Regions from separate parts of the Homo sapiens genome. Here region 1 is linked to region 2. Evidence: fine-mapped expression QTL. A gene starts in region 2. The other region holds a variant in brackets. All regions are shown on one strand. Distances are between the middles of the regions.

Region 1 (2,909 bases), 73 kb after region 2:
ATACAGGACTATCTGAAATTTTTTATTTCTAAAAAAAGTTAAGGTAAATACAATAAAACATTCACTCACTTTTGACAGAACTAAGGGTGGTAGGTATAGAATTTTAGTGAACACTTACTGCTTGCCATATTCCAGACACTGTGTAGGTGCTTTACCTATATTAACTCTTTTCATGCTCATGACGATCCTATGAGGAAGGTATGATGAGTAGGACCTTCCTTGTAACCTATGAGGAAACTGAGGCATAGAGACTTGAAGTGACTTGCCCCAGGTCACACAGCTGGCATATTCTTAGGGCCCTCTACTCTTCTCTATGCCTGAAACAATTCTTAGTTTAAAAAAAAAAAAAAGGTGAGTGGAAAGGAAGAAGAGGGCAGCAGAGTGATGTGACCAGGGCGGTGGTGGTTCCTCCCACAGGCCTCCCCAGCCCGGCTGCCCCGCCTTCATCATCGTCAAGCTGAGCCCGCTGCGGGACCGCCTCGTGGTGACGGAGTGCCAGCTGACCCACTCACACCCGGCCTGCCCGCTGGAGTTCGCCTACTACTTCCGCCCGGGCCACCTGCTGGCCAACGCCTGCCTGCCGGTGCGCACCACCAACAAGATCTCCAAGCAGTTCGTGGCCCCAGCCGACGTGCGCCGCCTGCTGTCCTACTGCAAGGGCCGCGACCACGGCGTCCTGGACGCCCTGCACGTGCTCGAGGGCCTCTTCCGCACCGACCCCGAGGCCAAGGTGGGGTCTCGAGAGAGGCAGGCCGGGGGAGGGGGCGGGGGAAAGCCGCGCTGAAGACTCGTGGGTCATTCATGCCTTCATCCGCCCTCTCATCCCTTCACTCCTTTCCTCCATTCATCCGTTCATTCATTCAATAAGTACTTACCGAGGCATTGGGGATGCAGCAGCAAACCAGACCCACGTGGTCTCTGTCCGCAGAGAGCTTACCTTCTAGGGTAGTGCTGCCCAGTAGAACTTTCTTCCAGGATGGAAACGTTCTGTGATTCTGCACCCCCAGCCACAAGTGGCTACTGAGCACTTGAAATGTGTCCAGTACACTGAGGAACTGAATTAATTAATTAATTAATTAATTTTTTTGAGACGGAGTCTCACTCTGTCACCCAGGCTGGAGTGCTCTATCACCCAGGCTGGAGTGCAGTGGTGCGATCTGGGTTCACTGCAACCTCCGCCTCCCGGGTTCAAGCGATTCTCCTGTCTCAGCCTTCCGAGTACCTGGGACTACAGGGCGTGCCACCACGCCGGCTAATTTTTTTGTATTTTTAGTAGAGACGGGGTTTCACCATGTTAGCCAGGATGGTCTCGATCTCCTGACCTTGTGATCCGCCCGCCTCGGCCTCCCAAAGTGCTAGGATTACAGGCGAGAGCCACCACGCCCGGCCTGAATTTATTCTAATTAATTGAAATTTAAATAGCCACCTATGGCTATTGGCTGCCTTGCAGAGGTAACTGCCAGAACGCCCCTGCAGTTCTGGCGGGAAAAACCAACAACTGACAAACATGTCCAAATATGATGTAACATCACTAGGGGCTGGCTGGGTGCTAGCAAGAAGGGGAGCCACAGTGATGACAAATGCTATGTAAGTTTTTTTTTTTTAATCTTTTTTTTTTTTGAGACAGGATCTCACTGTCACCCAGGCTGAGTGCAGTGGTGCAGTCATGGCTCACTGCACCCTCGATGTCCCAGGCTCAAGCAATCCTCCCACCTCATTCTCCCGAGCAGCTGGGACAACAGGCGTGCACCACCAC[ACC/A]CAGCTAATTTTTTAGTTTTTGTAGAGATGTTTGGCGGGGGGGGGTCTCCCTATGTTGCCCAGGCTAGTCTTGAACTCCCAGACTGAAGCAGTCCTGCTTCGGCCTCCCAAAGTGCTGGGATTACAGGCATGAGCCACCACGCCAGGCCTACTTAAATTTTTTTTTTTTTAATTGAACTGCACAAACAGAAAATGCACAAATGATAAATACTTAGTTTGATGAATGTTCTCAAGGGGAGAACACACCTGAACCCACCATGCAGATGGAGAATTAGGAGAAGGAAGAGTGCTATGTCCTGTAATGTGATGGAGCGATAAGTTATCATCAAGGAGAAAAAGGCCGGGGCCTGGAGCGGGACAGTTCTAAGGGTGCTGTTTGAATTGGTCAGGGAAGGTCTCTTTAGCAAATGATGGTGAAGCAGAGGAGATGGAACAGAGGCAAGGGACCCTCATTCTGTCATCAGAGGGAAGAGAATTCTAGGCAGAAGGAACAGCCAGTGCAAAGGCCCAGAGGCACGAGCAAGCTTGTGTTGGAGGAACAGTGAGGATGGCTGCTGCTCCATAAGGAATCTCTGCGGCTTTAATCCAACTTCAAGTTTGGGGTGAACTTGAAGTTTAAAGAGGAAAGAAAGATGAGAAAGTAGGGGAAGAACTGGTTTCTCCTCCTGGCTGTGCCTTTGTCTCCCTTGTGTGTGGAAGAGGTCCCAAGGCAGGGTAAAGTCGAGATTCAGCTCTGGCACACTCTTCCTGTCTTCATCTCATGCCCAGTAAGAAGCCCTGATTCAAGCCACCAGCCCAAGCCCAGGCCTCTGTCCCGACATAATAATAATTTTAGCTAATGTTTATCAAGCACTTACTATATGCCAGGCACTACCCTAAGTGCTTTACATACTATAACTCATTTTCATCTCACCTGAGCCCTATGAGGAAATAGTCCACCATTCTCATCCCCATTTTACAGACAAGGAAACTGAAGCACAGAGAAGTCAAGTAACTGGCTCAAAGTCACACAGCTATTTAGTGACAGAGCTGGGCTTCGGACCCACACAGCCTGGATCCAGACCCATGACCTTCACCATGGGGACAAACACACATGCACTTCCTACTCCACTGGTCTTTGCTGATCTAGTAACTCTCCTCCACTACCCACC
Region 2 (2,909 bases):
CCCGAGTAGCTGGAAGTGCAGGTACATGCTACCATCTCCAGCTAAATTTTTTATGTTTTGTAGAGATCAGGTCTTGTTATGTCACCCAGGCTGGTCTTGAACTCCTAGGCTCAAGAGAGCTTTCCACCTTGGCTTCCCAAAACGCTGGGATTATAGGCATGAGTCATCGCACTCGGCCAGACATAGGCTCTTAAAGGGGTGACTAAGTTAAAGTGGGGTCCTGAGGGTGGCCTGGAATTTGGTTTGATTGGTTTATTTTATTTTATTTTTTTTTGAGATGGAGTCTCGCTTTGTGCCCTAGGCTGGAGTGCAGTGGCGCAGTCTCGGCTCACTGCAAGCTCCGCCTTCCGGGCTCACGCCATTCTCCTGCCTCAGCCTCCGGAGTAGCTGGGACTACAGGCGCCCGCCACCACGCCCAGCTAATTTTTTGTATTTTTAGTTGAGACGGGGTTTCACTGTGTTAGCCAGGATGATCTCGATCTCCTGACCTCAGGATCCGCCCGCCTCGTCTTCCCAAAGGGCTGGGATTACAGGCGTGAGCCACCGCGCCCAGCCTGATTGGTTTTATAAGGAGAGATTAGGGCCTCTGCAAGAGGCTTCAGGAGAAACCAACCCTGCCAACACCTTGATCTTGGACTTCTAGCTTCCAGAAGTGTTAGAAAATAAATTCCTAGCCGGGCGCGGTGGCTCACGCCTGTAATCCCAGCACTTTGGAAGGCCGAGTGGGGTGGATCACGAGTTCAGGAGTTTGAGACCAGCCTGGCCAACATGGTGAAACCCCATCTCTACTAAAAATACAAAAATTAGCCGGGTGTGGTGGTGTGCGCCTGTAATCCCAGCTACTCGGGAGGTTGAGGCAGGAGAATCGCTTGAACCCCGGAGGCGGAGCTTGCCGTGAGCCGAGATCGCGTCACTGCACTCCAGCCTAGGCGACAGAGCGAGATGCTGTCTCAAAAAAAAATAAATAAATAAATAAAATAAAATAAAATAAAAAAGAAAAAGAAATCCTGTTATTTAATTGCACCCAATCCCTGGTACTTGGTTATGGCCGCCCCAGCGGGATGAAACAGCCCTCCCTGCCCCCACGGCTTGCCTGAGCCTGGGTCTGGGGCGTGTGCGCATGCGCGGTGGAGCTTGTGCTCCGGAATCCGGTGCGGAGGCTTGGGCTCCCTGCGCTTAGCGGTGTAGTCGCTGGACAGCTCCTTCAGCCGGAATCTCCGCGGGTGAAGACTGCGGGGATCCTCGGTGCCAAAGCTTCTGTGGTCCTCCTGCTTTCCTTTTCCCCCTGTGGGAGGAGGTCGCGGGCTGGAGGTGTTTCCTCCTGGTCCTGAGCAGGGCCAACCTGGAGGTAAAATGGCCCCTGCGCCTTTAAACAGCCCTCCTCGGCTTGTAGGCCCTGCTTGGTTGCTCCAGCTTTTTCAGCTGTTCCAGAGCTCACCCGGAGCTATTTTCATCCGTGGGATCACGTGGAGGGCTGGGACTTTCCAGGCTTCCTTAGTGATGTCACCCTTCTGTCATTAGGCACCCGAGACCAGTATTCAAAAAAAGAATGTTGTCGTTATATAACTATATTGGAGATAAGTATTCCTCAAAACAGATTAGCTAATCCTCCTATGCATCTGGCTGTCTAATAACCATCATATATAATATCATACTCAAATACCCAGAAAAAGAAATATTGAGGCCAGGCGTGGTGGCTTACGCCTGTAATCCTAGCACTTTGGGAGGCTGAGGCAGGCGGATCATGTGAAGTCAGGAGTTCGAGACCAGCCTGGCCAACATGGTGAAACACCTTCTCTACTAAAAATACAAAAATTAGCTCGGTATGGTGGCGTGTGCCTGTAATCCCAGCTACTACTCGGGAGGCTGAGGCAGGTGCTTCATCCTGGGAGGTGGAGGTTGCAGTGAGCCAGATCCTTAGGGCCAACTCTGGTTCATTTAATGTCCATTTTTAGAAAACCTGTGAGCTCCATTCACAGTGAAGGTTTGAAGCCCAGAAGTGGCCTCCCAACAGGGTACCACATTTCCCAGCACCTTTGCAGCTAGGTGTGGTCATGTGAGCGAGTTATGTGGTCATGTGACCGAGTTCCAGTCAGTGCAATCGGGCATCTGTGGGGAGCACCGCTTCCAAGAGTGGCTCCTAGAAACCTCCCATACTACCCTCCTGCCTACTCTTCCTGAAGCCCAGCACTAAGCGTCATCCCAACTCGATGGGTTTTGAATTTTTTTTTTTTTTTTTTGAGATGGAGTCTTACTCTTTGTCGCCCAGGCTGGTGTGCAGTGGTGCAATCTCGGCTCACTGCAACCTCCGTCTCCTGGGTTCAAGCGATTCTCCTACCTCAGCCTCCCGAGTAGCTGGGAACATAGGCATCTGCCACCACGCCCGGCTAATTATTTTTGTATTTTTAGTAGAGACAGGGTTTCACCATGTTGGCCAGGCTGGCTCGAACTGCTGAACTCAAGTGATCCACCTGCCTCGGCTTCCCAAAGTGCTGGGATTACAGTTGCGAGCCACCGCACCCAGCTTGAATTCTTATTTTTTAAAAATAGATATGAGGCCATAATCCTAGCACTTTGGGAGGCCAAGGCAGGAGTATCACCAATTTTAGAACAGGATTTCACCAGGGGGAAGATGGTCTCCCCTGCTCCCCCTAACGCCAGGCTCACCTCTTCAGTGCCCGCAACTCCAACCATCGCAGGATCTTTTCACTCCTAGACCTGACCATGCCACTGCCCCGCCTGCGGGATAAGGTTCTACACCTCGCAGGAGCTCATGAGGCTCTCCACAGTATAGTTAGTAGTTATAGATGCAGGGTCAAGGAGCTGACAGCATGGACCAAACCCTGGCCCACCACTTCCTAGATAGTGGACCTAGGGAAGGTAACTTACATCCCTGTGCCCCTCAGTGT

What was found.
Region 1: its variant is fine-mapped to the expression of PLA2G4C in prefrontal cortex (BrainSeq, PIP 0.92).

What each region holds. Positions count from the first base shown.
Region 1 is chr19:48,182,038-48,184,946 of GRCh38, forward strand. ZSWIM9 (zinc finger SWIM-type containing 9) reads left to right here. Exons shown (of 4, transcript NM_199341.4): 3 at 418-730. Among named protein-coding and RNA genes, the nearest start is that of ZSWIM9, 13 kb to the left of the region's middle. The variant ACC/A (reference allele first, on the strand shown) is at 1,757.
Region 2 is chr19:48,109,394-48,112,302 of GRCh38, forward strand. It overlaps PLA2G4C (phospholipase A2 group IVC), which reads right to left and starts at 1,424. Exons shown (of 17, transcript NM_003706.3): 1 at 1,094-1,424. RefSeq lists an enhancer at 1,240-1,399.